5 separate regions of the Homo sapiens genome follow, and regions 2, 3, 4 and 5 are each linked to region 1. The links come from fine-mapping of genetic effects on gene expression. A gene starts in region 1. Each other region holds a variant in brackets. All regions are shown on one strand. Distances are between the middles of the regions. Region 1 holds the start of RABGAP1L (RAB GTPase activating protein 1 like). Region 2 overlaps RABGAP1L (RAB GTPase activating protein 1 like). Region 3 has its middle 7.2 kb from the start of MRPS14. Region 4 has its middle 62 kb from the start of RABGAP1L-DT. Region 5 overlaps LOC124904457 (a long non-coding RNA gene).

What was found.
Region 2: its variant is fine-mapped to the expression of RABGAP1L in fibroblasts (GTEx, PIP above 0.99).
Region 3: its variant is fine-mapped to the expression of RABGAP1L in whole blood (INTERVAL, PIP above 0.99).
Region 4: its variant is fine-mapped to the expression of RABGAP1L in whole blood (TOPMed, PIP above 0.99).
Region 5: its variant is fine-mapped to the expression of RABGAP1L in thyroid (GTEx, PIP above 0.99).

What each region holds. Positions count from the first base shown.
Region 1 is chr1:174,156,525-174,162,856 of GRCh38, forward strand. RABGAP1L (RAB GTPase activating protein 1 like) reads left to right here and starts at 2,996. Exons shown (of 26, transcript NM_001366446.1): 1 at 2,996-3,133. RABGAP1L-DT (RABGAP1L divergent transcript) reads right to left here and starts at 2,763. Exons shown (of 4, transcript NR_121197.1): 1 at 2,640-2,763; 2 at 2,363-2,466. RefSeq lists silencers at 2,702-3,101, 3,222-3,401.
Region 2 is chr1:174,670,814-174,677,145 of GRCh38, forward strand. The region is part of intron 14 of RABGAP1L (RAB GTPase activating protein 1 like); the gene reads left to right. Among named protein-coding and RNA genes, the nearest start is that of GPR52, 230 kb to the left of the region's middle. The variant A/C (reference allele first, on the strand shown) is at 3,774.
Region 3 is chr1:175,027,607-175,033,735 of GRCh38, forward strand. No RefSeq gene overlaps it. Among named protein-coding and RNA genes, the nearest start is that of MRPS14, 7.2 kb to the left of the region's middle. The variant CCA/C (reference allele first, on the strand shown) is at 2,442.
Region 4 is chr1:174,094,240-174,100,571 of GRCh38, forward strand. It overlaps the pseudogene RNU7-78P. Among named protein-coding and RNA genes, the nearest start is that of RABGAP1L-DT, 62 kb to the right of the region's middle. The variant T/A (reference allele first, on the strand shown) is at 3,383.
Region 5 is chr1:173,920,011-173,926,342 of GRCh38, forward strand. It overlaps LOC124904457 (a long non-coding RNA gene), which reads left to right. Exons shown (of 2, transcript XR_007066739.1): 2 at 3,867-4,468. It also overlaps the pseudogene RNA5SP67. Among named protein-coding and RNA genes, the nearest start is that of SERPINC1, 5.8 kb to the left of the region's middle. The variant G/A (reference allele first, on the strand shown) is at 2,953.

The DNA of each region.
Region 1 (6,332 bases):
ATCTACCCATCACACTAGCCAGAGTAAGAAAAAGAGCACTTTTCATTTCCCAACAAACACAAGATATGGCCTTCCATGTGACTGGCACCAATTTAGACTCATGTCAGTGCCTATCAGTGAATACTGACAGGTCAAGTGAGAATGGGATTAGGCTGATTATCACAATCACTGTCCACACCTGGAGCGGGAGATGGGCCTAATCAGATCCTTGGCTGTCTTGCAATTGCAGAGGGGTGGAAATATATTCTGGGGAATCAATCAATATAATGCTCACTATAAAATCAATATGATATTCTGTACCATTAGATACCAGTTTAAACTCTTACATTATTGTTCAATGTTTAACTTGTTTCTAATTTTTTTTTTCTTTTTTGTGGAGACAGGGTATTGTTATGTTGCCCAGGCTAATCTTGAACTTCTGGGCTCAAGCAATTCTGCCTTGGCCTCTCAAAGTGCTGGGATTACAGGCATGAACCACTGCACCTGGTCTGTTTCCAATTTTTGATATTACATTTTAAACTAGGAGTTGCAGACATAAATGAGAGAAACAACACTGTAAGATACAATAGAGAATGTAGAGACTTTGGCAAAAGAGAGAATGCATGTCCTGCAGCTGATCGTTATCATGTAATAATGTAAGCTCACTGTTACCAAATCTTCCACTTTTTAAAGAGAAGCCCAAAATGCATGTATAATCTTCTGGTTTTTAACTTTGGATATGTGTTTTTTTAAGCACCATGTATGCCAAACAAAACATGTTTGTGGGTTTGATTTGTACCTGGGGCACCAGTTTGTCATGTTATGAATCATGCTGGAGTATTTTATAACACCATCTCTCAAAGTGAGAGTTTCAGTCCTTTCATGGACCAGGGCTGCTAGGATACGCTTAATGCAAATGAAGCCACAGTGGAAAGAGAAGTGAGCAGCACATACCACATGAAGAATGCTTTGTTATTAATTTTTTATTCCTTTTAGTTTCTCGACTAAAAGCCTGAAGATCTGTTAATAATTTTTTGGCATGTGCTTAGAATTGTTTTTCTGGTGGTAAGGATGAGTTTGCATCAGATCACCTTAATTGTCTTTTATCTAGGTTCTCTCATGACTTGTCTCTTATCTATGTTGTACTGTGAGGAAAAGTTCAGTTTTAAAGAATGACCCCTGTTGATGAGAGGTGTTACATGTGGCCATGGGACAGGATTTTTCTTTTCCTTATAGCAAGTTGGCACATGAAGATAGCATGCTCCACTTAAATAGAAGAATTAACTCGCAGTGGCCAGTGGTGTCCACTATTGCTTTCAAAGACATATGGAACTGAATTTGGGGAACACTAAACTTGTTTTGGACTTGCCATTTTTTTTTTAAATTCTTTTTTAGCTAAGTTACCTATTGAATGCCCATAATTACCACATCCATTGTCCTTTTTTGTCAAAAAGCTTCACTCCAGTTAGAAGATACCTGAAGGCAGAAACTGCGGCTTTGTCAACTGTTGATTTCCTCATGGCGCGCAGTGTAAATTTACTAGTACTTTATTTAGTAGAGGCTTAGTACTTACTGGTTGGCAGATTTATTAATAGTTCCTGTACATCTCAGGAAATCAACAGATGATTTATGTTATTCTAACCCTAACTTTATTAAATATAATAAAAACTTTCAGCATTTATTGTCAGGCCCAGGGCTAGGTAGGCTCCTGAGATACAGAAGTTAATAAGGGAAGCAGCCCAGAAGGTAGGGGAAACAAAAAAATAGTTACAACACTCTTGATATGTCTCAGCATCTATAGACATTAACATCAGGAAAAGCGGGGGTGTGGGGGGAAGGAATTTGTCAGGGAGGGCCCTTTGGACAAATGTCACGTTTCTCAGAGTAGCTTTTAAATATGGGTGGGAAAATGAGGGCAGGGGAATTGAAGTGGGATAGAAGGGAGATATTTAAACTAAAGTCATTCTATGGCTGCAATCACTGGACACTATATTCACTTATCCATGCAATCACATTCATTGAGTGCTTCCTATGAGTTAGGCAGGGTGCACAGTGTAAGATACAAATGAATGATACAGGTTCACAGCGGTTGTCTAGTGGGATAAAATGCTGCACAGGGCAACCTGGATAAGCCTGACATGTTAGGTGCCACAAAACTACAGAACAAAGTGCTAAGGAGATTCGGAAAATTTACAGGTCATTTCTGGTTGCAGGATCTAGAAGAAGGATGTCCACAATTCAAGGATCAGTACAATCTTCGTAGCGAAAAAGCGTTGGTTTATTCTACCTCTACCTAGTTTGTACCTCAACATCTTTTACCCCAAAGGATAAAAAGGTGCAAATGAGGGCACATTTTCTTCATATAATACGTAATGGTGCTTACTTATTGCTTTCCTGTTCATTCCCCGCAGGTGATTTCCCTCTTCAGTCTCCCCCGAGTCTCACAGAAGGAACTAACAAGGGAGCGCTTCACAAGCACACAGACACCTTCAAACAGGCGCAGAAGAGTACTTGGTGAAAAAGTATTCTTTCAGGTGACTTTCCTTAAGATTACTGAGCATTAAGAATGAAAATATGTAAACCAGGTTTACGAGCAAGAAAATAATCTCTCCACATTCAGAGTTAATCTTCCGAACTCAGCAACTGCCAGTAGAACGCACCCCGGTCAGGGCGGGCTCGCGGGCGCGGTCCCACCCCCAGGCCCCTCCGCCGCGGAGGTTCTCCAGCGCCGCCCGTACTCCCGCCTTTCGCGCGTCCCTGCTCTAACAGCTCTGGTTCTGTCAGGACCTCACTCCTCCGCTCCCGGCGCAACCGCGGCCACGCAGCGACGTGCACGCGCGTGTGCGCCGCCGCCGCCCGGCAGAGTGGGCGCCTCCGACATCAGGAGCGCGCACGCCGCGCAGAGGGGCCTGGACGAGCGCGCTTCCGACCCGCCGCCACCGCCTCCTCCCCTCCTTCTCGGCCCGCCCCCTCCCTCGCCTCTTCCTGCCAGGCGGCCCTTCTCCCCTCCCCTCTCAGTTCCCTCCGCCCTCCTCGGGCTCCAGCGGTGGCGGAGCGAACGGGACCGGCCCGGCTTCAGAGCGCGAGGTGGAGGGTGGAACGCGGGCGCCTGAAGGAGTTGTTGTCTCGGCAGCGCCCGCGGAGACGTGAAGAGGTGAGGCGAGGACGGCCTCCTAGGGACACGAGGGCGGCCCGGCGGCCCGGATCCGCGGGCCGAGGCTGCCTGGGTGTGTTGGCGTCGGGCTGAGCCTGGGGAGGGTCGAGATGGGGCCCCAGCCGAGGACTGGGATGCGGGAGGACCGCGGTAAGGAGGGTAGGGGGCGGGTTCAGGACTGTCGGCCGCCTCCCGGACACCGCAGTTCTCCCAGGTGGCCGCTCCTCGCGGATAGGGCGGGCGGGGTCGGCGCCCTTACCTGGGGGTGGGGTAGTGGCTTTGGCGGCCGCCTCCTCCAGCTGTGCCCTCCTGACATTGCTGCCTCGGCGGCTGCCGCCCGCTGCTACGCTGTGGCTGCTGCTGGATTCGCAGTCCCAGCCGCCCTGCGTCCGGTGGGCGAGTGGTTAGGGTATTTTCTTACCCACACGCAGGCTTCTGTACTCGACCATTTCTCTCCCTCGCCCTTCCTCTTCCTCCGCCGAGCACTTTGCTCGGCTCCTGCTGTTGATGCTTGTGGTTTTGCAGTTTGGGATGGGATGCGTTCCGGGCAGATCCCTACCTGTAGGGAATGCCCCGCTTCAAAGTTGACCTCCTGAGCCATGACAAACACCTCCCCCCAACCCCCACCCACCTTGTGAGTGCTCAGTGTCCTGATAACTGAGTCAAAGTTTCTGAGACTGGGCTAGTACTTTGCACTGGTCGCCAACGGTACAGGGCTGGGCAGTGCGTCAGCATGTGGAAAGGGGCCACCGGCTAGCGGGAGGTGGCCGGGTGCATGGGAGCTGAACTGACGGGTTTCAGATACTAGGCAGTGTGTCCAGGTCCTTGGATCTCTCAGATAGGGTTATATTAGAATATGTACCAAAACTTGGGTGGTCACTTGCAAAATTGGTTTCATGCAAGTAAACTGAAATGCCAGCCTTATTACACTAATGGTAAGGAGAACTTTTGCTTGCCTGACAGATTTCAGCGCAGTTTGGAAAATGATTTTAAGGCCTTTATTTTTGGCACTGGAGGGGTTTAGGGATTTTTAATACATTTAAATTTCCTCGTGCATAGTGGGAGGTAAGTAGTTGCTTGTTAAAATTCTGAAAACACAGTTTCATGAAAACCTTCTGACTTTTCTTACAGTAGTGTTTATATTTGGCATCTTCCGTAGAATATCCATTAGTTATGATGTCAGAAGATACGGATGTGAAGTTTGCTTTTTGTGATCACATTGGAAGTGGATTTTGTTCATGGAAAATACTGGTTCACAAGCTCCTAGTACTAGAAAACTGGCCTGTGATTCATTTTCTCAGTAGAGCGTCCCTTATGAAATTGACAATGAGATTTCTAAGGAGAAAGACTAGTTGAACTTTATGTATACATTATCATCAAATTGTATTAAATGTACACCTGCCTGAGGGGTTAGCTCTAGACTTTGAGTTAGACTGGTGTCTATACTAAATCAGTTCAATAAATGCGCTGATATTATGTATTATTCATTTGGAGAGAAGTAGATAAAGCAGGGCAGAGTTTATATTTTAACATATTATGTAGCCTACATTTGCTCTGATGTGTATTATTATTATTATTATTATTATTATTATTATTATTTTTGAGACGAAGTTTCGCTCTTGATGCCCAGGCTGGAGTGCAACAGCGCGATCTCGGCTCACCACAACCTCCGCCTCCCGGGTTCAAGCGATTCTCCTGCCTCAGCTTTTTGTGTAGCTGGGACTACAGGCATGCGCCGCCACGCCTGGCTAATTTTGTATTTTTAGTACAGACTGGGTTTCTCCATGTTGGTCAGGCTGGTGGAACTGCTGACCTCAGGTGATCTGCCCGCCTCAGCCTCCCAAAGTGCTGGGATTACAGGCGTTAGCCACAGCGCCCGGCCTCTGATGTGTACTAGTAAGTCATATGGGGAGAAGTAGATGAAATAGGGTAGAGCTTATATGTGAACATATTATATAACCTACATTGTCCTCTAGAAAGCTGGAAACAAGTTAGTAAGTCTCAGTACTATTGGGGCATATGGTGAATATACAAACCAACCTAAAAAAGTGTGACTGTAAATAGATGAAGTTTGTTTGTTTCTTTTAAAGAGACAAGGTCTCGCTCTGGCGCCCAGGCTGGAGTGCAGTGGCTCAGTCCTAGCTCACTGCAGCCACGAAGTTCTGGTCTCAAGAGATCCTCCCACCTCAGCCTCCTGAGTAGCTGGGACCACAGGCACATGCCACCAAACCTGGCTAATTTTTTGTTTTATTTTTGTAGAGTCAAGGGTCTCACCATGTTGCTCAGGCTAGTCTCCAACTCCTGGCCTCAGGCAGTCCTTGCGCCTCAGCCTCTCGAAGTGCTGGGATTACAGGCCTGAGCCAACGGTGCTTGTCCCATTTTTTTTTTTTTTCACCTGAGTTATTTGATGGGAATTTCTATATATTACAGTTGCGATGTTCTGAGAATTTTTGTTTCTTTGATAATTGTTTCATGATTTAGATGTTTTCTTTTTACGCTGGTAGTTATGATTTTTTTTTCCTTTGAATGAAAGAATTTTATTAGGCATGTGAAACAGGAGTTTTCATGTGATCAGCTCTCCAGTTCTAAATTTGTGACTTTTAAAAAACTTGAATTTTTTTCTTTGCCTTAACCCAAACTTGAATTTGCTCAGCCATTGTATATTTATTTGAACTCTCAGATGATACAGCATTGAAGCAGAAAGTCCTTTTATCCATGCTTTTGGAGTAATCAAAAGAAGGAATTCTGTTGTGCCAAGTAAAAATATGTGTGGGAGATAGCTAGGCTTCAAGAGATTGACTTTGAAGAGAGTAGTGGCTAAGTAGCAAAAATTTCCTATATTGAAGGTGTAGAAGTGGGCCTGCATTCCAACCTACCATTGTCTTCAAGTGGGGTATGGATCATTATGACTGGTTAGAGGGGGTTTGGAGAATGAAGTTGTTGCTGTAAGCCTATGGGATTCCCAGGCACAGAGCTTGCTTATGTCTTAATTTTAATGAGTTCTATATTTTTATAACTCTTGACTTATATAAATGGGTCAGCCGTTGAGTCTGAGGATGACCAGCAGCCCAAGGCTATTCCAGGTGCTGGTATTTCTTTTTTTTTTTTTTTCTCTTTCTGTTTTTTTTTTTTTTTTTTTTTTTTTTAATTATACTTTAAGTTTTAGGGTACATGTGCACATTGTGCAGGTTAGTTACAT
Region 2 (6,332 bases), 510 kb after region 1:
TTCCAAGTCTTGGCTAATATGAACAGTGCTATAACAAACATGGTAGTGCAGATATCTCTTCAATATACTCATTTCCTTTCTTTTGGTTATACCTAGCAATGGGATTGCTGGATCATATGGTAGTTCCATTTTTAGTGTTTTGAGGAGCCTCCAAACAGTTCTCCATAGTGGTTGTACTAATTTACGTTCCCACCAACAGTGTATAAAGGTACCCTTTTCTCCACATTCTTGCCAGCATTTGTTATTGCCTGTCTTTCAGATATAAACCTGTAGATGTTTTAAATGGAATTGTTTTCATGATTCTTTTTTCAAATAGTTCACCGTTAGTGCATAGAAATGCTACTAACACACTTTTATAAGTTGATTTTGTATTCTGCAACTTTACTAAATTCATTTATTAGTTCTAAGATTTTTGGTACAGTCTTTAGGGTTTTCCATATATAAAATGATGTCAACTGCAGACAGGGACAATTCGGTTTCTTCCTTTCCAATTTGGATGCCTTTTATTTCTTTCTTTTGCCAAATTTCTCTGGCTAAGACTTCCAGTACTGTGTTGAATAGAAGTGAGAATGGACATCCATATCTTGTTCCAGTTCAGCTTTTCCTCATTCAGCATGATGTTAGCTATGGGTTTGTCATATATGGCCATTACTGTTTTGAGGTACATTTCTTTTACATCTAATTTGAGAGTTTTAAATCATGAAGTGATGTGGAATTTTGTCAAATGATTTTAATGCATTTATTGAAATGACTTTGACTTTTATCATTTCTTCTTCTAATGTGATGTATCACATTTATTGATTTACATATAGTGAATCATCCTTGCATCCCTGGGATTAATTACTTGATTGTGGTTGATGATCTTTTCGATGTGGTGTTCTATTTGGCTTATTAGTATTTTGTTGAGGATATTTGCATGTATGTTCATCATAGATGTTGGCCTGTAGTTTTCTTTTTTTGTTGTACCTTTGTCTGGTTTTGGTATCAGAGTAATGCTGGTCTAGCAGAATGAGTTTGGAAGTAATTCTTCCTCTTCAATTATTTGGAAGAGTTTGAGAAGAATTGGTGTTAGTGTTTTAAATATTTGGTAGAATTCAGCTATATTTTTAAATATTTGGTAGTTTTTTAACTATCTGGCTTTTTGTTGATAGGAGACTTTTTATTACTGATTCAGTCGTCTCCTTACTCATCTACATGAAGAAATAGATGAGTAAGGAGACTGAATCAGTAATATTTCATCCTTGATCAGTTGCATATGTACACAGATTTATCCATTCTAAGTTATCTAATTCGTTGGCATATAATTGTTCATAATAATTTCTTATGATCCTTTAATTTCTGTAGTATCAGTTGTAATGTCTCCTTTTTTATCTCTGATTTTGAGTCTTCTCTCACTTTTTCTTAGTCTAGGTGTTTATTTTATGTTTTCAAATGAACAACTCATTTCATTGATTTTTTTTTTCCTTTCTTTTTTTTTTTTTTTTTGATATGGAGTCTCCCTTTGTCACCCAGGCTGGAGTGCAGTGGCTCAATCTCTGCTCACTGCAACCTCTGCCTCCCGGGTTCAAGCGATTCTCCTGCCTCAGCCTCCTGAGTAGCTGGGATTACAGGTTTTTGTTTGTTTTGTTTTGTTTTTACTTTCCATTCCATTTATTTTTGGTCTGATCTTTATTTTCTTTCTTCTGCTAATTTTGGGCTGAGTTTGTCTTTGTTTTTCTAATTCTTTGAGATCCAAGATTAGGTTTTTTATTTGCAACCTGTCTTCTTTGTAGGCATTTATTGCTGTAATTTTCCCTCTCAAACTGCTTTTGCTGCATCCCATAGGTTTTGGTATGTTGTATTTTCATTTTCATTTTTCTCAAAAAAATTTTAAATTTTATTTATAATTTTTTCATTGACTTATTGATTGTTCAGGAGCATGCTGTTTAATTTCCATGTACATGTGAATTTTTAAACGTTCCTCCTGTTACTGATTTCTAGTTTTATACTACGGTTGGAGATTTACAGTTTTAAGGAATCCTGCACTTAGACATCTTTCATGGGAAAGGGGAAGCCTTGAGAATATACTTATCATTCATGTAACATGCTTTGTCATGAACAAATCTCAGAGTTCCTAGTTCATGGAAAAGGAACATACAGGCTACTGTATTCAGGAATATTCCAAATAGGGATAGGATTCGAACTTTTCCATAATTTCTTTCCTTTTTTCTTTCTGTATTCTCTCTTTATCCTACTTCCAACCCCTAATACATACACACATAAGAGTGTATGAGGGTTCCCTTTCCTCCACATCCATGAGCTCACATACACCCATAGCTCTAGATAAAAGTACAAATTAAGCAATCAAATATAACTATATAAATTAAATAAAATTAAATAAGTAAAAGGATACTAATTGATCTTTCAAGATTAGGCAGAGGTCTGGAAACTGATGATAATGAAGAAAAGGTCATTTCACATTCATTAGATAACGATTCCCATGATCTAATTTTTCTCTCATTTGAACAGAGAGTGATAATATCATTAGCAGAAAAAGTTAAAGGAGAACAATGGACCATAATATGATTTTTTTTTAGACTGAGTGATTGCCTTTCTATTTACTAAAAGATCTGAAAGAGTTTACAAAATTAAAACACATGTAAAAATAGATAAACGCAGTGACCAAGATGCTATCAGGTACCTGAGATGAGCTATTTTCTACAGTTGAGTAACGAATTTGATTATTAATTTCTGCTAATGAAAGCAAAAAGAAAATGCTAAATTACATATTTCTCTTCTTAATGCATTCTTTTTAAAAAATAAGGTCACAATTTTTTTTATTTTTCAGGCATAGAATTGGAAAAACATAACCAGAGATACATGGTTATACTAGGTATGGGAATTTGGAGTAATATTGTAGACAGTGACTTCATTGTGCTTTTATAAAAGATGCATATGTGGTACCTAAATCAAAATTCTTATATGGACTGGGGTTCTAGAGTTGAGCATGCTGAAGTCTGAAAGGCTGAATATGTAATGTCAAATGCTAACTCAATAAAGATAGTTCTGTGGAATATGGTACTTTGCTACCTCATTATTTAGCTTCACACAGAGATAATATTTAAAGAATGTAGAAGTATTTGTCATCAATAAATCCCATAGTATGTCTTCCTCAAGGAAAATGAGCAAAGGATGACTTTTACTGCATATAAATTATACCTCCATAAACATGATTTGTAATAAAATAAATTGTTTTTGAGTGTTCAGAGTTTTTTTTTTTCTTTTTTTTTTCTTTTTTTAAAATTATTATTATACTTTAAGTTTTAGGGTACATGTGCACAATGTACAGGTTAGTTACATATGTATACATGTGCCATGCTGGTGTGCTGCACCCATTAACTCGTCATTTAGCATTAGGTGTATCTCCTAATGCTATCCTTCCCCCCTCCCCCCACCCCACAACAGTCCCCAGAGTGTGATGTTCCCCTTCCTGTGTCCATGTGTTCTCATTGTTCAATTCCCATCTATGAGTGGAACATGTGGTGTTTGGTTTTTTGTCCTTGCGATAGTTTACTGAGAATGATGATTTCCAATTTCATCCATGTCCCTACAAAGGGCATGAACTCATCATTTTTTATGGCTGCATAGTATTCCATGGTGTATATGTGCCACATTTTCTTAATCCAGTCTATCATTATTGGACATTTGGGTTGGTTCCAAGTCTTTGCTATTGTGAATAGTGCCGCAATAAACATACGTGTGCACGTGTCTTTATAGCAGCATGATTTATAGTC[A/C]TTTGGGTATATACCCAGTAATGGGATGGCTGGGTCAAATGGTATTTCTAGTTCTAGATCCCTGAGGAATCGCCACACTGACTTCCACAATGGTTGAACTAGTTTACAGTCCCACCAACAGTGTAAAAGTGTTCCTATTTCTCCACATCCTCTCCAGCACCTGTTGTTTCCTAACTTTTTAATGATCGCCATTCTAACTGGTTTGAGATGGTATCTCATTGTGGTTTTGATTTGCATTTCTCTGATGGCCAGTGATGATGAGCATGTTTTCATGTGTCTGTTGGCTGCATAAATGTCTTCTTTTGAGAAGTGTCTGTTCATGTCCTTCACCCACTTTTTGATGGGGTTGTTTGTTTTTTACTTGTAAATTTGTTTGAGTTCATTGTAGATTCTGGATATTAGCCCTTTGTCAGATGAGTAGGTTGCAAAAATTTTCTCCCATTTTGTAGGTTGCCTGTTCACTCTGATGGTAGTTTCTTTTGCTGTGCAGAAGCTCTTTAGTTTAATTAGATCCCATTTGTCAATTTTGGCTTTTGTTGCCATTGCTTTTGGTGTTTTAGACATGAAGTCTTTGCCCATGCCTATGACCTGAATGGTAATGCCTAGGTTTTCTTCTAGGGTTTTTATGGTTTTAGGTCTAACATTTAAGTCTTTAATCCATCTTGAATTAATTTTTGTATAAGGTGTAAGGAAGGGATCCAGTTTCAGCTTTCTGCATATGGCTAGCCAGTTTTCCCAGCACCATTTATTAAATAGGGAATCCTTTCCCCATTGCTTGTTTTTCTCAGATTTGTCAAAGATCAGATAGTTGTAGATATGTGGCGTTATTTCTGAGGGCTCTGTTCTGTTCCATTGATCTATATCTCTGTTTTGGTACCAGTACCATGCTGTTTTGGTTACTGTAGCCTTGTAGTATAGTTTGAAGTCAGGTAGCGTGATGCCTCCAGCTTTGTTCTTTTGGCTTAGGATTGACTTGGCGATGCGGGCTCTTTTTTGGTTCCATATGAACTTTAAAGTAGTTTTTTCCAATTCTGTGAAGAAAGTCATTGGTAGCTTGATGGGGATGGCATTGAATCTATAAATTACCTTGGGTTTTTAATAGCTGAAAGACTGCATTGCCATTACCTGGTTCTTAGATGTCATGGAATCTATGTGATTCAGGCCACGTGCTGAATTATAACCCAAACATAGTGGTACTTAAAAGCCCCTGTAGCTCTCATGCTTCTCCTAATAGAAGCTTTTGGCTGAAACAAGAAACGTTTTTGAAAGAAGCATATTGTCATTATCCTTTTGTGAAATTTTAATAGCCAGATTTGTATTCTTATTCATATGTAACAAAAACCTTGCTAGCACAGTGGTGATAACAGAGGTACCTGCAAGTAAAACTGAGGGTTTTTTTTTTGAAGTAAAAGAAAGAAAAAGCAGCTTTGAAGCAGGTACTTACACAAATACTACCTTGATTTACCACATATCTGTAATGGATGGCCTGGGAGTAGTGACTGCAGCCTGAAAAGTAATTTAGGGCATGGGGTATTAACTGATGACCTTATCCATAAAATATTTTAGTTATCCTGTGGAAGTTCTGATTTTAGTTGACAAAACAGAAGCTTCTATAGACCTGTATATTGTTGAGACTACATATATTATTCTAAGAAGGCTTTTGAATAGATTTGCTGAGTGTAGTTGATGAAGATGGCCCTTTTAAATATTAGGGAATTCATACTAGATTTACTGTTTCAGTTTTTTCATTACAGATTTTGAGAGGCTTCTCCTGGTAGTAAAATGTCAGATGAAACTGTTACTGTAGAATTCACTAGGTTACTGATTCAGTTTGTGAGTATTAGAAAATGTTCTTCCATAGAGATTTTAAATAGTTTTTGTGACAAAGCAAAAACAAAGCAAACTGAAGTTTTCCCTGGATTGAAGCAGCCGATCAAATATTTTAACGTTTGGAGTTTCAACTTCTAAGTGAAAAGATTCCTGATTTTAAAATATAAAAGGATTATTTGAGAAGCACGTACTTTGTGTATGAATGAAGAAATGTATCTATTTTCCAATGAAAGTTTATATTTTGGTGACTGCTTCTACTGAAGTGATAGCATGGTCAGTAGTATTCCAACATCTTTGGATACTGTTAGCTTCAGCCATCATATGGTTTGATTAATTGAACTGGTGTAATAGATTAATAGATATGGTGGTATCTATACTAATCTGATTTTCTTTTTTATGTTACATAAAATAGAATTTTTCCTTCCTTCCTTCCTCTTTCCTCTCATAATTTGAACAGATACTGGATTCAAAAAATTTATGATAGCTTAAACCCCAGGGATATCATTTTCTAAAGGAGTCATCTGTAGATGGTTTATGTTAAAGTTGGACAAATGGATAGAACATCAAGATTTTAATATTTGTTTCCACATTTGTCCCACTTACGGCATAAGTATCAGGGAAGTGGCCAGATGGGGTGGCTCATGCGTGTAATCCAAGCACTCTGGATGGCTGAGGCAGAAGGAACACTTGAATTCAGGAATTTGAGACCAGTCTAGGCAACATAGTGAG
Region 3 (6,129 bases), 870 kb after region 1:
CAAGAGATCCTCCTGCCTCGGCCTCCCAAATTGCTGGGATTACAGGTGTGACCCACCACACCCCATGACATTTTTGAAAACAAAAAAGTACTGAATAGTCTTACCCTACCAGATATTAATATACCATACATTATAGAGCCGTAGTTATTGAGCTTATGTGGTACTGGCGCCAAAATCAACAGACAGTTACGTGAAATAGAATAGATAGGCCTGATAGAAACTCCAGTGCAATTAGAATTTGGTTATGTATTAAAGGAAGCATAAAAATTGTTAAACAACTAGTGCTAGAACAACTGGGTAAAGATTTGGGAAAAATTATATCTTCATCTCTTACCACATATCAAATTTTAGATAAAAAGGTAAATACTAACAAAGGCTTAAAAAACAGAAGAAAATAAAAATGAATATATTTTTAATTTTTATTGTTTTATTTTATTTTTATTTTTTGAGATGGGGTCTCACTCTGTCACCCATGGTGGAGTACAGTGGTGCGATCTCAGCTCACCTCAGTCTGCTTCATGGGCTCCAGGTGATTCCACCTCAGCCTCCTAAGTAGCTAGGACTACAGGTGTGGGCTACCACACCTGGGTAATTTTTGTATTTTTTGTAGTGACGGGGTTTCACCGTGTTGCCCAGGCTGGTCTTGAACTCCTGAGCTCAAGCATTTCACCTGCCTTGGCCTCCCAAAGTGCTGGGATTACAGATGTGAGTCACCATGCCTAGCTGAATATATTTTTTACACTTTTAAATCTTAGTAGACAATTTTCAGACTGTCTAATAACATTAGATGTGTTCAACCTCACTAGTTTCCAAGGAAATGCAAATTAAAATAATGAGATCTATTTAAGCTAGCAGATTAGCAAAGGTTAAAAAAAATTCGGCATTGTCAGAGGTGTGAGGAAATAGGTAATTTCATAGTCGAGTGATAAGAATATAAATTGGCATAACTTGTCTGCAAAGCAATTTGGCAAGTCTTTTCAAAGTTTGTAACTATTGATCCAATTATGCCACTTTGAGGAATTTATTCCAAGGAAATACTGAGAAACTCTAAATTTTATATAAAAGGACATTTATCATTGTCTTATCTATAACAACAAATAAATAACTTAACAGTAAGTGGAGGGTTAAATGAAGAAATCAAGTTATAATCCTAAATTTAAAAATCTGATGGGTTTCTAATTTAAAATATATATATATATATTTACAGATACAGGTGTAGGTATAGAATAGACAGATTAAAAAAGGCTACTCTTAAATATTAAGAGTAGAGATGAGTGAGCAGATTACTGGTTATTCTTATGGTCTTTAAAATTTTCCAATTTCTCTATAATTTATACTATTAGATTCACATATGTGTTGAAGTTGATTTAAAAATATTAACCTGTTCTTGTCTTTTTATATTTATATTATTTCACCCAAAGTATTTGAAAAATCTGTTTTTCAAGGTGCATATAGGAAGGGGTCATTCCTGGTCCCCATCAATATCCTTGGCTTATTCTTGGGGACAGGCACAGGCCGAACCCTGACCAAAGCAGCAAGAAATTAAGAATTCAGGGATGCTTGCTTCGTTCATATTTAGTACCAAGCCATTCACTCTTCCCTTCGTCTTCATTTCTCTGGCTTCTGTGTATGCCATCAAGTAAACTGTCCTTTTGGTGTCTAATCTTTACCTAATACAGGAATGATCATTTCCTTAACTTCTCTGTTTTCTGAGAGGACTAATTAATTATTCCTTTTCATTATTTTATAACTGGCAAGTTACAAAACTAACTTGACTGCAGCTTCTGGTGCCACACAGTAAGAATGTTTACTTGGTGTGTGCTTGTTCTTAGCTGGCCTCAGCTGAGTCACCAGCAACCTTGGGCCTGAACACCTGCCCCAATGCACTCCCCTGGTGCTTCATCATGGGCCTTCCACGTGAGAGCTGGATATGGCTCAAAAGAACCAGATTTCTTGGGCTATGAGAGGGAACTACAAAGAGGAAGAAAGCGATAATAAAGGAAAAGAACCTGTGGAAGGAGAGCGAAAGGCACGGGGACACATGCACCACACACACACACACACACACACACACACACACACACACACACACGCATTTCAACCGTGGCTCTGAAATGGTGTGATGGATAGTGGGTGAAACCTCTGTTCTCATTACACATCTGCCTTCATTAAAGGCTACCAGCGGAATAGCAATCCTATTGGTTTACCGGTTTGGCCTTAGAGTGTGGATGGCCTTAGCACTTCCGGAAGCAGCCACAGGTCCCATGCCTGTGAGCCTTCCCTGGAGCTATGTGCTGTGCACCACGCTGAACACGAGATGGCAGTATTACTACATCTGCGTTCCAACACACAGCCATCCTCGGTTCCCACACACAGGGCCTGATGCAAACTGAACACACACACACCACACACACACCACACACACACACACCACACACACA[CCA/C]CACACACACACACACACACAGCTGTCCCCCAAATAAAATAATGACACTTCGCCTATCGTCAAGTGGGACCTGTGTTTGAGACTGAGTTTGCCGCCTCCGTGGGAGTCAAAGGCAGGACAGGCTATGTGATTTGTAGGGCCCAGTGCAAAAGGAAAATGTAGGGCCTCTTGTTCAAAAAGCAGGGAAAAAAGTGCTGCTAAAGGTAGTAAAATATGAAGCCTCTTCCTTTCTTTCCTGGACTCTGGACTTGTTATGGGATTTTTAAATTTTCTATTAATGTTCTAAGTAAAGAAAAACAAAATCATTAAATGTACTTTTAAATCATTAGCATCAATTTTACCACTCATCGTCATATTGGGGAATGCCAGTTCACCGTGCAAATGTAAGAGCATTTAACTCATAGGCAGAATCAGTGAAATTATACAATTTTTATTTTGTTGCTTGTATATGCCTTTGTGTTTTGTTCTTACCAGAACAGTGAAAATATTGCATAAAACTAACTCAGTTGCTTTTATTTTACTTCTTGATCCACGTGCATTCTACCAGCACCTTCTGACTTTGGCTTACTCATGAGTAAGAGAGGACTGAAAGGAAAAGGAACTATTGTCCTTTTAGAATGTCAACACCTTCATGTATAGGAAGCAAGTTCTAGTGGCCTCTTGGGGTTGCCAGTGCCCCAGCTGACTCAGTCATAGACATAGTACTCTTACCTTGGACTCGCTTTGAGTCCCATTAATCTCCCATACATCATGGGGCCACCAGAATTCCATGTGGATGGGGCATCATACAAAGGGAGCAGCAAGGAACGATGGGCACATGTGTCCCCTCTGCTCATGCAGATGTTCCATTGTCCCACTGGACCTCACTTACAAGACACAAATTCAAAAACATAATGATTCAGAATTTCAAGATAGTGACAGTAGAACATTAAACCAAGCACAGGGCTCTCCTGAAGGCATGGGGATACATGCACAGACACACACAAACACACAAGAACGGCAGGGGCTGTGTGACACATGAGTGACATACCTGCAAAGCCAGCCCAGGTCACAGGCTCTCATGATCTCAGCCACTTGCATTTTCCCAGTCCACACTTATATCTCCAATGAGCCTTTTCGCCCAGGTGCCAGAGCTCCTTCAACTCCACGTGTACCAATCTGAGCTAGTAAGCATCCATTCCTTCAGCAAACATTTATTGAACGTTCCTGTTACATGTCAGATACTGTTCTAGGAGCTGGGGATACAGCAGGATACACAGTCCCTGCCCTCATGGAGCTTACACTGTAGTGGAGAAAGGGGAAGAGCCATTCACAAATCAATAATTATGTGTCAAATGGAGACATGCTATGAAGAGAAAAGCAGAGTAAAAAGAGCATTATGGTAGGAGATACTGTTACCTAATGTGGTCAGAGAAGGGCTCTCTGATGAGCCAGCATTTGAACAGAGACCTTAAGGGTGTGAGGGAGTGAGCTAGGAGGCTCTGGGGGAAGGACATCCAGGCAAAAGGAATGGCAGCTGTGGAGGCTGAGTGGGGTGTGTGCATGGTGTGTCTGAGGGGGAACAGGGAGGCAGCAGCTGGAGCCAAGTGAGTGAGAGGAAGAAGGTAGGTGAGGTGAGAACACTGGGGGCACAGGGGGAGCCCATGTAAGGCCTTGCGTTCCCACATAAACTTCAGTAAAAACTGTCTCCTCCAGATTGCCTCCTTTGTTCTAAAGGCCTTATGTCTTGACGAATGGCCTCACTGGGAATAGGAGTCACCTTTGGCTCCTTTTCTCTCATGTCTTTAGCCAGACCTCTTGCTCCAGCTACTGCCTGGCTGACCACTTCCAAGCAGGCTGCTACCAGCTTAGTCCAGCTGCAGTGACACTCACCTTGGGTTCACATCAGGAACCTCTCATGCCTTGCCCTGGGGCTTCTTTGGTGTTGGTATGGACACCTGAGGAGCCAGGAGCCTGCTCAGCTGTCATGTATGCATAGCTTCAAGTGCAGGGGGAGTGATGCCCATGGGGACACCCTAAACCAATGGAGATGGAAGCCAAGGGATAACACATTTCATAAGGCTCCTTGGAAGGCCTTAGCGAGACATCAAGCTCCAGTCAGCCGCAGCAGTTGCTAACTTAGTAGTCACTTAGTGGCGTCCTTGTTTCTCTTTTTCATTCGTTCTTGTTCCACTGCCCTGATCCCTCACTCTTGCTCCCAAATAAACAAATGGCACACACACCTCTGTCCTGGATTCTTCTTATTTTATTTTATTTATTTATTTATTTTCTGAGATGGAGTCTCGCTGTGTCGTCCAGGCTGGAGTGCAGTGGCACGATCTTGGCTCACTGCAAGCTCCGCCTCCTGGGTTCATACCATTCTCCTGCCTCAGCCTCCCGAGTAGCTGGGACTGCAGGCGCCCGCCACCACGCCCGGCTAATTTTTCGTATTTATAGTAGAGATGGGGTTTCACCGTGTTAGCCAGGATGGTCTCGATCTCCTGACCTCGTGATCTGCCCGCCTTGGCCTCCCAAAGTGCTGGGATTACAGGCGTGAGCCACCGTGCGATTCTTCTTTTGTGGGTGGTGGGAAGAATTCAGGCTCAGATAAAAAATATCCCTTCCCACCGATCATCCAAATCTTGTTGATTCTACTTCAAATTGTTTATTTAATTTTTCCCATTCCTGCTCCCACTCCCCTAGTTCAGACCCTCTTCATCTCTTCTCTGTACTAGGACCAACTGGACTCTTACCTGCTGTTTTGCCTCTCCCTTTTCTTTTTTTTTAAACTTAACCCATCATCTCTCCCACAAAAGCATTCATCCTTTTCTGCTGCCAAAGTGAAGTTTCTAGGACTACAACTACTCATTTCTGGTAGCTACTTATCACCTACAAAATAAAGTTTAAACCCCTTAACATGATGTTATGATTGCTGTCAATGCCTGCAGCACCGTGATTTTCCATCTCTCCCCATAAACACCTCTGACCACCTTGGATTGTTCATCTGTTTCCCCTTCAGTGGTTCTTCCTCTCGAAGCCTTTCTTTCTGCCAGCCTTTCCATTCAGTCCCCTTTAGTTCATCAAATGCTTAATTGAACACAGGCACATACCAGTTCCTGTCACCCAAGGAGGTGAGGAGCAGGTGACAAGATAGGGGAGGTAGTGTTGCAGAATATGTCACATGTCAACACAGTCCCATGTAAATGTTTTAGTTAGCTTGCCTGAGTTTAGGGACCTGAGTGCGCTTTTTCGTCAGGCTGGAATCACTGCAGGGGTTTTGGTAAGGAGAAAGGACATTTTTCTTTTGCAGAACTTGAGATCACGTGGAAAAATATGGCTCTGAGGGGGGGTAAATTTATGGAAAGTCATCTTTACATTAATTATCAAAGCTGATGTCTAAATAAAGACAATGCGATTGACATTTTGCACATTTTAAATTAGTAGTAGTGGATATAGCACTCAATTTTCACTTACTATTCCTGACTTCAAAAAAAGAAGTGTTAAATTTTCTTTCCTGCAATCTCGAGATGCTTGCTTATTTGTTTTGATTTGTTGCAGATAATATGCATGCAGAGAGGTTTTCCTTTTCTGAGTCTCATTTTCCATCCACATATTCAATGTCTTCTTGCCTTGCAGACTTAGGATTGTTGATTTTCCACCCCTCTAGTTCTGCCTGCCGGGCCACTGGCTACAGTGTGCAGGTTGGG
Region 4 (6,332 bases), 62 kb before region 1:
TTCACCATGTTGGACAGGCTGATCTCAAACTCCTGACCTCAGGTGATCCGCTTGCCTCAGCCTCCCGAAGTACTGGAATTACAGGAGTGAGCCACCGCACCCGACCCATAATTACTTATTGAATTGTCTTTATTTCCCTCGAGTGGAATAAACAGTCTTGTTCACTGTTGCATTTCCATTGCTTAGTACATAGTAAAAATACTTAATAAGTATCTGTTAATTGAATAAATAACACTTAATAGGCTTTAATGTCCATTGTGCATATTTTATAGCACAACTTACTCATTTGGAATTCCTTTTTTTTTTTTTTGAAATGGAGTCTCGTTCTGTCTCCCAGGTTGGAGTGCAATAGCGTGATCTCAGCTTACTGCATCCTCTGCCTCCCAGGTTCAAGTGATTCTCCTGCCTCAGCCTCCTAAGTAGCTGGGATTACAGGTGCCTGCCACCACGCCTGGCTAATTTTTGTATTTTTAGTACAGACAGGGTTTTGCCAAGTTGGCCAGGCTGGTCTCGAACTCCTGACCTCAGGTGATCTGCCTGCCTCAGCCTCCCAAAGTGCTGGGTTTACAGGCATGAGCACTGCACCTGGCCTTCATTTGGAATTCTTATTCTGATTTCTTAGTTGAAGATACTCAAGATTTATTTATTTATTTATTTAGAGATGGGGTCTCACTCCAGTTGCCTGGGTTGGAGTGCAGTGGCATAATCTTGGCTCACTGCATCCTCGACCTCTCTGCCCCAAGCGATCCTTCCACCTCAGCACCCTGAGTAGCTGGGATGACAGGTGTGGGCCACCACGCCCAGTTAGGTTTTTTTTTTTTGTACTTTTATTAGAGACGAGGTTTCACCATGTTGCCTAGACTGGTCTTGAACTCGTGAGCTCAAGTGATCCTCCCACCTTGGTCTTCCAAAGTGCTGGGATTACAGGCATGAGCCACCGCTCCCAGCCAAGATTTATTTCTTAAAATTTATTTTTCTTACAAAAATTTTTTTTCATTGTCGGGGACTTTCTGGTAAAGACCAGAAAACCTGCTAGACAAATTTTAAAAGAGCTTTAATGTGATTTATTTTTTATTAAAAAAAAGTTTTTAGACATGGGTTTCTCAATGTTGCCAAGACTGACCTTGAACTCCTGGGCTCAAGCAATCCTCCCACCTCAGCCTCCAGAGTCCTGAGTAGTTGGGACTACAGGTAAAAGCCACTGTGCTCGGCTATGCTCAAGACTTTTTTAAAGAAGAAAATATGGGTATTATTTTATTCTGAAACTTCTCATGTTTTATCTTGCCATCGTACATAAACACATTAGTTTGCACTTAAACAGTAGCTTAAATTGTAAATTTTATCCATCCAAATTTTGTTACAAACTTTGTTATAATGGAAGCTCTAAATGAGGGTTATCTGATTTTTAGTTATTTATAAGTAATCTGTTTTAGTCTACTGGAATGCTTGCAAACTCCTTGTTATCTTCTCTGCCCCCTAGGATATGTCTAGATATGGATCTTTGACCATTAATCTCATGTCACCTTTTTCTTTACTTTTAGGTCTTCTTTTAAGTCTAGATATTTTTATTCAATTTGCCTTTGAGTTACTATTACTTCTGTTTAAATTAGTCCAGATTACTCCTCAAACATACTTGTAATTCTCAGATTGGGTTTTATCTCATCTCTTTTGTCTTTCTGCTTCTGTTTCATACAAGCCTCATCTTCTTGCTTTCTTCTTGAGAATGCAAATTTTCTAAAAGAGGTATCTATTTCCTTAGAAAATCACTTTCAGAGATAAGCGAATCTTCTGAATCTTCTGTATTATGATCCTTTCCCTTTTGTATATTATTTTTTATGCTTCTCTTGGGACAAGAAGAGGGCTTGGGAGTGTGATATGGACCAAGGTTCCAAGGATTTGGGACAGGTCATGTGCAAGTAAGCAGAGCTGACCACTAGCTGTGGATAGGGAACAAAGGAGAGTTGAAGTCTAAGAGCCTTGCCAAGCAGCCTTGAGAAGCAAACAATAATCTGAAACTTGAAATCTGTGAGGGAAGATGAACTCAAGAACTGGATCTTTTTCAAAGGTTGTCAGGCAAGATGGACCTTAACTAGTAGAATCTGGAGACAGCCAGGAATGTTAACTTGAGGAAATAAAATACACAAGAATGTGATAGCTTTTCATACTGCTAAATCTGGAGAGAATTAAGATCTTAGGTCAGTTTGGACAGGTTTTTCCCTTCTTTATTTTCTCATCTATGTCCAGTATATCAGTCATCTATTCAGATAGGAAGTGTGGATTTCCTTTGGCTCCACTCTTAGATCTCTAAGTAGAGTCCAGATCGATATGCCTACGTGAGAGTAATTCCCAGGGCCTTTTGTTATTCCACTGTCTTAAACCAATGGAATCCATGATCAGCTATCATTTCAGCAAGCACTGCAGCCAGCACTCTCCCCGTACACTGTATTCATAGGGACAAATGTGACAGGGCAAATGGACAATTACCTGTCTCTCCATCCACCCCATCTTTCGCCACTGAATTCCGGAAGTTGCAGTCCCCAGTTACATGCATAAAGATGATAGTCTCTAACAGTATTATAATCACGTCTCAAAGCAGGATTTTAGATTCGAGAGGCTGATATTGTTTGGATCTGTGTCTCTGCCCAAATCTCATGTCGAATTATAATCCTCAGTGTTGGAGGTGGGGCCTGGTGGGAGGTGATTGAATCACAGGGGTGGATTTCTCAGGAACGGTTACCACCATCCCCTTCACGCTATGCCTCATGATAGTGAGTTCTCGTGAGAGCTGGTTGTTTAAAAGTGTGTATCACCTCCTCCCTTACTTTCTCTCTTGCTCCTGCTCCTGCCATGTAAGATGCCTGCTCCCCCTTTGCCTTTTGCCATGATTGGAAGCTTCTCGAGGCCTCCCCAAAAGCAGAAGCCACAATGCTTCCTGTATAGCCTTCAGAACTATGAGCCAATTAAACCTCTTTTCTTTATAAATTACCCAGTGTCAGGTAATTTTTTTTTTACAGCAATTCAAGAACAGGCTAATACAGAGGCCGAAGAGGGCCAGCTGCTTAGTTTGCAGCTCTGATGGACACTGGCTCTCTAATTCAGTGAGCAGACAGTGGGAAAGGGATGCTCAGATGCCAAACTTTCTTTCAGATGGGTGGATCTGTTCTGTACCATGAAGTAGAGTATGGATAAGCCAACAACTGTTTTTCTGAATCCACCTCCATTAGCCTCATAAATTAGGGCAATTCCTCCTGGTAATGAGCAAGCAGCTTGTCATTCTTTATGCTCTGTGTTAGGATTAATTTTGTCATTTTTCTTTACCTTTTTATGGGTTTTAGGCAGCAGTTGAGAGACCCTGAGGCAGGGCTGCTAGCCAAATACTATT[T/A]AAAGCTAGAAATGCCTCACTGATTTTTATCGTAGATTGTTTCAACCTGTGTTCATTTCTTCAGCCTCTGACTATAGGATTTCCCAGGTTGCAGTCTTTGGCTGGCTGCTCAGTCTGCACTCTCCTTCAGAGGACTAATTTACTCTTACACCTTCACATCGGACACCTGAAGACTCTCAAACTGTTACCTCTAGTCTTGTCTTCTCATTTAAATTGTGACCCTGTATTTTCTGACTAAAAGACATTTCTACTTGTCTATCCCACAAAATTATTGTATCCCTGGTGTGTGTACTCTTAATTATTAAAACTGCTAAATTATCAAAGACCAAAGTCATGAGGACAGGAAACAAACATTTTATGCAAGGGCTACTGATAAAACTTTTGGAGGCACAACCCCATTTATACTCCTTTGGTTCCTGGAGAAGAGAAACTGCACTATGTATTATTCAAAGGTTCTGAGCATTTACCTCATCCTGCAGGATCACATCCCAGCTTCACACCCCAATATAGCATGGCCTGAGAGCTGGCAATGTAACTGGGTTTTCAATAGCCATGTCACTATTCTATAAGATCAACATCAACTGCTTCTGGCTGATGGGGTGCAAGATAAGACCTGTAAATCTAATGGGTATCAGAATATTGACTCACAGAGTTCATTTGTTGAAGCAATGAAGCAATGTTGCATGGAAAATTCACATCACATAGGATGTTTTCATTTGCAAGGAGCAGACTACCCAGTGAGTTACAGTTCTTGAAGTTTCTCCCACAGGGAAGATATCCCTTTCCCACCATCCTTCAGGGTCTACCTAGATGGAACTGAATGTTACAGAAATCCATTTAGGGCAAGAGCTATCATACCATGCAGAGATTTCTATAAATTTGGTTAGGTTTTTTTTTTCCTTCCCAGGCAAGTGATCATAAGGAAGTATCCGTGATTCCACAGGAGTGGAATATGGAAAGTGTGGCAGTGTAATCAGAAAAGGCATGCTGCAGTGTGAGCCATCTGCATGTGCAACTTTCTTGTGACTTTGGACCTGTTGGGTCTAGTCCTGTTTACATTGTTTCCACTTGATGATGGTGGAAACCATCCTCAGATATAACGTGGTTTTGGTTCTAGACCACTACAATAAAGTGGATATGGCAATAAACCAAGTCACACAATTTTTTTTGTTTCTTAATGCATATAAAAGTTATTATTTACAATACACCATAGTCCATTGCTAGTGTGCAATAGCATTATGTTAAAAAAACACGTATATACCTTAATTAAAAATACTTTATGGCTAAAAGTTGCTAACAATCATCTGAGCCTTCAGCAAGTCCTAATATTTTTGCTGATAGAGAGTCTTGCTTCCATGTTGACAGCTGCTGACTGATCAGGGTGGTGGTTGCTGAAAGTTGGAGTGGCTGCAGCAATTTCTTAAAATAAGACAACAATGAAGTTTGGCACATTGACTGACTCTTCCTTTCATGAAAGATTTCTCTGTAATGCTGTTTGATAACATTTTACCCACAGTAGAACTTCTTTCAAAATTGGAGATAATCATCTCAAAACCTCCCACCATTGCTTTATTAACTAAGCTTATGTAATATTTTTGATCCTTTGTTGCCGTTTCAACAATGTTCACAGCATCTTCACCAGAAGTAGATTCTATCTCAAGAAACTACTTTCTTTGTTCATCCATAAAAAGCAACTTTTCATCTGTTCAAGTTTTATTGTGAGATTGCAGCATTGCAGTTAATCTTCAGGCTCCATCAATCACAAATGTTTTTAATGCCATTAGAATGGTGAATCCTTTCCATAAGGTTTTCCATTGACTTTGCCCAGATCTACCAGAGGAATCACTATCTATGGCAGCTACAGCCTTACGAAATGTGCTTCTTAGGTAATAAGACTTGAAAGTTGAAATTACCCCTTAATCCATGGGCTACAGAATAGATGGATGTTGTGTTAGCAGGCATGAAAAAAACATTAATCTCCTTGTACACCTCCATCAGAGCTCTTGATTGACTAGGTCCATTGTCAATGAGCAGTAACATTTTTTTCAGGAATTTTTTTTTTTTTTTCCCTGAGCAGGAGGTCTCAATACTGGGCTTAAAATATCCACTAAACCATGCTGTAAACAAATGTGCTGTCATTCAGGCTTTGTTGTTCCATTTGTAGAGCACGGGTAGAGTAAATTTAGCATAATTCTTCAGGGCCCTAGGAATTTGGGGGTGGGAAATGAGCAATGGCTTCAACTTAAAGTCAACAGTTGCCTCAGCCCCTAACAAGAGAGTCTGCCTGTCCTTGGAAGCTTTGAAGCCAGGCACTGATTTCTTCTTTCTAGCTATGAAAGTCCCAGATGGCTTCTTCTTCCAAGAGACAGCTATTTCATCTACACCGAAAATATGTTGTTTAGTGTAGCCACATTCATTAATTGTCTTAGCTAAATCTTCTTGCTAACTTGCTGCAGCTTTTGTATCAACACTTGCGGTTTCTCTTTGCACTTTTATGTTATGGAAATGGCTTCTTTTCTTTGACCTCATGAACGAATCTCTGCTAGATTCAAACTTTTCTTCTGCAGCTTCCTTACCCCTCTTAGCCTTCATAGAATTGAAGAGATAGGGCCTCGCTCTGGATTAGCCTTTGGTTTAAGATGTTTGGCTGATTTGGTCTTCCATCCAGTCCACTAAAACTTTCTCCATATCAGCAATAAAGCTGTTTTACTTTTTATCTATCATTTGTGTGTTCCCTGGAGTAGCACTTTTAATTCCCTTCAAGTACATTTCCTTTGCATTCACAACTTGGCTAACTATTTGGTTCAAGAGGCCTGGCTTTTGGCTTATCTCAGCTTTTGATGTGCATTTCTTAGTAAGTCTAATCATTTCTAGCTTTTGATTTAAATTGAGAGATGTGTGACTCTTCCTTTCTCTTGAACACTTAGCAGGCCATTGTAGGGCTATTAAT
Region 5 (6,332 bases), 240 kb before region 1:
CTCCAACCTCTGCCTCCCAGGTTCTAGAGATTCTCGTGACTCAACCTCCCAAGTAGCTGGGATTACAGGCCCCTTCCACCATGCTTGGCAATTTTTTTTGTATTTTTAGTAGAGACGGGTTTTCACCATGTTGGCCAGGCTGGTCTCAAACTCCTGACCTCAAGTGATCCGTCTGCCTTGGCCTCCCAAAGTGCTAGGATTACAGGCATGAACCACAGCGCCCAGCATTATTTTCAAATATAGTACTATTTAAAAATCTCTAAACCTTATTCTAATTTTGCCAATCATCCAATTAATGTTTTTAGAGACTGGTTGTCACTCTGTTGCCATTAGAGATGGGGGTCTTGCTCTGCTGCCCACACTGGTCTCAAACTCCTGGCCTCAAGCAATCCTCCTGCCTCAGCCTCCCCACTAGCTGGAATTACAGGCAGGAGTCACCACACCTGGTTTTCAAAGCAATGGTTTTCACCTTCTTTGTTTCAGAATCCTTTTATAGTCTTGCCAAAGAACATCTAAATATTATTATTAAAATAGTTACATATTAAAATAGTTTTGGCCAGGCTGAGTGGCTCACACTAGTAATCCCAGCATTTTGGGAGGCCGAGGCAGGAGGATTGCTTGAGCCCAGGAGTTCAAGACCAGCCTGGGCAACATGCGAAACTCCATCTCTATAAAAAAATGCAAAAACTTAGCTGGGCATGGAGGTATGCGCTGGTAATCTCAGCTACCCAGGAGGCTGAGGTGGGAGAATCACTTGAGCCTGGAAGGTTGAGGCTGCAGTGAGCCATGATGGCACCACCGCACTCCAGCTTGGGTGATGGAGTAAGATCCTGTCTCAAAACATAAATAAATAAAGTGAAATCGTTTCGACTTCATATACCTACTGAAAGGTTTTCTGAATCTCCTAGGGTCCCTGGACCATGCTTTGGGAAGCACTGATTTATAGCCAATAAAAAAAAAAGAAAAGAATTTTTTTTCTCCTTTCCCTGGGGCAGGAGCACACATTGCATTTAGTTGTCATGTCTCTTTAGTCTTCTGCAGCTTGGAACAGTTCCTCTCGTCTATGGTCATACTACCCTGAAAGTGCTTGATCTTAGAAGCTAAGCAGGGTCGGCCCCGGTTAGTACTTGGATGGGAACAGTTCCTCTCTTTTTCTTTCATGATTTTGGCTTGTTTGAAGCATATAGGCCAGTTAATTTTGAAGACTGTCTCTCAATTTGGTATGTCTAAAATTTCTTCAGGATTAGATTCAAGTTATCCTTTTCGGGGCAGGAATACAACAGAGGTAATACTGTGTCCTTCTCAGTGTATCGCATCAGGAGGTACAGATGTTAATTTATCCCATCACTGGTGATTAACTTGGATTACAAGATTGTGTCTGCCAAGTTTCTCTGCTGTAAAATTACAATGTTTCCCCTTTTGTTAAATGTCTTGTGGGGATACTTCACATACTTGAGAGTATGCAAATATATTGTTTTCCATCAAATTTTCACCTGCTAATTTAAGCTTCCCTCAATGATCCTTTTGCAAGACTTACAAAAATTTTTTTAATTAATCTTTTTTTCTGAGACATGGTCTCACTATTGCCCAGGCTGGAGTACAGTGACACCATCTTAGCTCACCGCAGCCCTAGACAACTTGGGCTCAAGCAATCCTCCCATCTTAGTCTCCCAAGTAGCTGGGACTACAGGTGTGTGCTACTGTGTCTGGCTATTTATTTATTTATTTTGAGAGGGAATTTCACTCTTGTTACCCAGGCTAGAGTGCAATGGCGCAGTCTTGGCTCACTGCAACCTCCACCTCCTGGGCTCAAGCGATTCTTCTGCCTCAGCCTCCCAAGTAGCTGGGATTACAGGCATGCACCGCCATGCCCTGCTAATTTTTGTATTTTTAGTAGAAACGGAATTTCACCATGTTGGCCAGGCTGGTTTTGAACTCCTGACTTCGGATGATCCGCCTGCCTTGGCCTCCCAAAGTGCTGGGATTATAGGCATGAGCCACCGCACCTGGCTTTATTTATGTATTTTTAAAAACTTTTTGTACAGATGGGTTTTCGCCATGTTGCCCAGGCTGGCCTCTAACTCCTGAGCTCAAGTGATCTGCCTGCCTTGGCTTCCCAAATTGTTGGGATTACTGGTGTTAGCCACCACATCCAGCCCCTGCAAGACTTTTAAAGCACTCCTCCCTCCCTGTTATTTCCATGTTTCTCTAAAAAGGATTATCACAAAAACCATTAGAATTAAAAGAGATTAAGTTAGACAAGACACTAGGCTGTGAGGAAACAAGCTGTTTCATCCTTTGCTCTTCGGGGTACAAAGTGCCATAAGTCTTTGTAGGTGCTTTGTAGGGAAACATGGAAACACCAAAATTACAAATGCATGTACCCTGTGAATCAGACATTCCACTTCAGGAAATTCATCCTACAGCTACACCTGCATGGGTTTCAGCAAGGTTAGCTGCCATGACCTGATTCATAATAACAAAAAGTTGGACACCACTTCCATCTGTAGGAGACTGGTTAAATAAACCAAGGCACATCCCCACAATGGAAAACTGTGCCATTGTGTAAAAGAATGAGGATGCTCTATATGGATGTACTGATATGGAAGGGTCCTTAGGATAATTATGTGGGGAAAAAGCAAGCTGCAGAAAGTGTTTATAGTATGCTGTGCTTTTTGTAACACAAAGTGAGGATGATGGGGTGAGGGGTGGCTAGAGACAAGGGTAGGAGTAGACTTATCAATATGTACCATCTTATTTAGTTTTCTAATGTTGAACATGTCAATGTATCACCTATTCAATATGTCTTGACTTTATGACACAAGGGTGTCAGTGTTGTATTCACACAGAGGCTTGGGGAGAGAAGAGGAGCAGGGCAGGATGAGGGCAGTGGCAGCACCAAAGAGGAACCTGAGGCAGGCTGAGTGCCTGGCTGGTGACAGGGGAGAAAAG[G/A]AGAACGGGTCTGCAGGTGGAAAGAGGTGTTTAGGTGTGCCCTGCCTGTGAAAGTAGTTTCTAATGGCTGTATAATATTCAGTAGTCTAGAACTTAACCATTACTTTAGTGTTAGACATTAGCCTAGGTCAGACTCTTTAAAAGTTTGAATATGATTTATGATCATATAGGTGCCATCTTAATAGGTGCTATTTAAAAACACTATATATCAGGGTCTATACTAAATGCTTCCCAGGCATTAGCTTATATAATTCTCTCATCAGCTCTACCAGAAAGATACTAATTATGCCCAGTTTACAGATGAGAACACTACTATTTACAAGAGTTATTTGCCCCAAATTGCAAAGCTAGCAGAGCTGAGATTCAAACCTCCCTCTGCTTCTCTCAAAGCCCTTGTGTCCCAGCACGATAGATATGAAAGAAATGCCCAGGACTTCCCATGTTACAACCCACAGTGTCCAACTGCTTTTCATCTGGTTCTCCTCTGGATAGTCTCTGTCAAACTTGTTCACAATTCCCTCCAAATCCAGTGCCCAGAAATGAACCCAGGGACTACCACATTTTCCTTTGCCTCTATCTCTCTCTCTCCCCCACCCCTCTCTCTCTATATATAATATCTATATATAATATAGATATAATATATATACAGCCTCCACAGCTGGGACTACAGTATGCTCCACCACACATGGCTAATTTGTTTTTTGTAGAATCGAAATCACTATGTTGCCCAGGCTGCTCTCGAACTCCTGGTCTCAAGCGATCTTCCTGCCTTAGCCTCCTAAAGTGCTGGGATTAAAAGCATGAGCCACCACAGTCGGCCTGTCTATCCATATTTTATTTGATGCACATCCCAAATGAGCATACTCACAACTCAGCCTGGGCATTCAGCACACTAGCTCTTTCTTTTTCCACAGGTCGGTCTATAAGCCACATGATGAAGATGAGACTGATCCTAAGCCCTGGAAGTTATCAGCCCAGGTATTCCCTGCCTCTCACCTCTTGGACCCAGCACATTTGGGAAACTGAGATCCCATGCCCTGGAATGAAAGAAACGGATCTATAATCATGTTTCCGGACCGAGAAGCCATGTGCCTCATTCTGTCCTATCCAACATTGCCATCAGTGGTTTGGAGGAAGACACAGTCAGGAAACAGTCAAGGGATAGTGGGTGCAGTGATCATCTGCTGGATCCCGGGCTGCCTCGCCCTCTCCACTATGCTTCTCCTGCAGGTCTCCCAAGAGTTCTCATTGGTCTCTGGGAGACTTTACCACCAGCCTAGTCTCTGGTACTCACTGCACACAGCTCCCCTTGGCTTTTATTATACTATCAAGGTTTGGATGATCCCAGATCCATTTCCTCTTGGTTCATCTTAGACTGTTTAGACTGGGAAAGAAAAAAAGAGCTTGTATGCTGGGCAAACTAATTTGTGACTGTGTGTGTGTTTACACACACATAGGTATTCTGAAAAGTATTTTTTGTGTATATTTAAATATAATAAAGATATTTTAGGTTGGGCATGGTGGCTCATGCTTGTAATGATTTGGGAGGCTGAGGCTAGAAGATGGCTTGAGGCCAGGAGTTAAGAATAGCCTGGGCAGCATAGCGAGATCCCATCTTTACAAACCATGAAAAAATTAGCCGGGTGTGGTGGCGTGCACCTGTAGCCATAGCCACTTCTTTTTTTTTTTTTTTTTTTTTTTTTTTGAGATGCAGTCTCGCTGTTGCTCAGGCTGGAGTGCAGTGGGGCCATCTCGGCTCACTGCAGGCTCCGCCCCCCCAGGTTCACGCCATTCTCCTGCCTCAGCCTCCCGAGTAGCTGGGACTACAGGCGCCCGCCACCTCGCCCGGCTAATTTTTTGTTTTTTCAGTAGAGACGGGGTTTCACCGTGTTCGCCAGGATGGCCTCGATCTCCTGACCTTGTGATCCGCCCGCCTTGGCCTCCCAAAGTGCTGGGATTACAGGCGTGAGCCACCATGCCTGGCCAGCCATAGCTACTTCTTAAGTCCAGGATTTTGAGTCTGCAGTGAGCTATGATCACACTACTGCACGCCAGCCTTGGCAATAGAGCAAGGCCCTGTCTCTAAAAAAGAAAGAAAAATAATTTTTCTTTAAATTAACGTTTTCATGGAAATTTCTAATATTTCTAGAACTGGAAATATTAGAAAGAGATAGACATCTTAAGAACTTTTATCACAAAAAAATCAGTTTTTGAAAAGGACTCCCTACTTCTGTGTGGCACTGTTTTTCTCAATTCTGAGTGAAAAGATTGGAAGGCTTGTGCTTTGCTGTGTTAGGAGTAGGTTCAAGGAACCATGAAGAGGAGAGAACATAGCAGTTGATTACCCTCTCTTTTTTTAGTACTTCCTTCAAGATCAGTGATAAAATTCCTCTTTCCCTAGCCCTGCTTCCAGTTCAGTAGTAACTTCCATGAGCAGGTAATTCAGCAGGTCCATGTCCATTGCCTCATACCCTGGGCTGTTCTGTTCTTTCCTTTGGACTCAAGAATAAGACCTTGGCAGGGAAGAGATAGGACCCAGCTTCTGCTGTGGTTACTGAATAACTCAAAGCTTAACCCTTCCATGGAAATTTGGCAAAACATTTAGCACAAAAAGCAGTCTCCAACTCCCTTGGGTTCCCAGTTTACTAGGTGAACATGACATTTTAATTAAGGTGAAATTAAACTTACCAAAATAAATCCTACATTATCATTTAGCAGCATTTAGCTGAGGCTCTCAAGGCATCTCACTGGAATTTGCCCAAATCCTCCTGTTAGAAAGTTCAGTTTTGGCTTCAGGGAAACCAAATCAAAACAGCAAATATTTATTGAACATGTCCTGTTGAATGTACCAAGTACTTGATAAACATTCATGTTTGAAAAAATCCAGGTCCAGAGTAGTTCTGCTAACTTAATAACAGGAAATATAGCACTTTAAATTCCTCCCAAATAGAAAGTTTAGATTATCAAGTAAGGTGAAAAATGCTTACTCATCCAGAAGAATTGACACCTTGTATGAACAGAAACATTGGACAAGGCTATTCTTTGGAGGCTGAGCAAGAGAGAGTTGTGTGGGGTCAAAGCTTGTTGCTTTTATATTAGTTTGGGAAGTTGTAGGTGGTGAAAGAGAAACAGCAAAGGGAGGCTGGGTGCGGTGGCTCACGCCTGTAATCCCAGCGCTTTGGGTGGCCGAGGCAGTCGGATCACTTGAGCTCAGGAGTTCGAGACCAGCCTGGCCAACATGGCCAAACACCGTCACTGTGAACAAAAAAGTAGCCAGGCGGGTGGCGCATGCCTGTAGTCCCAGCTACTTCAGGAGGCTGAGGTAGGAGGATTACTTGAGCCTGGGAGGTTGAGGCTGCAGGAAATTAAGTATGGGTTAA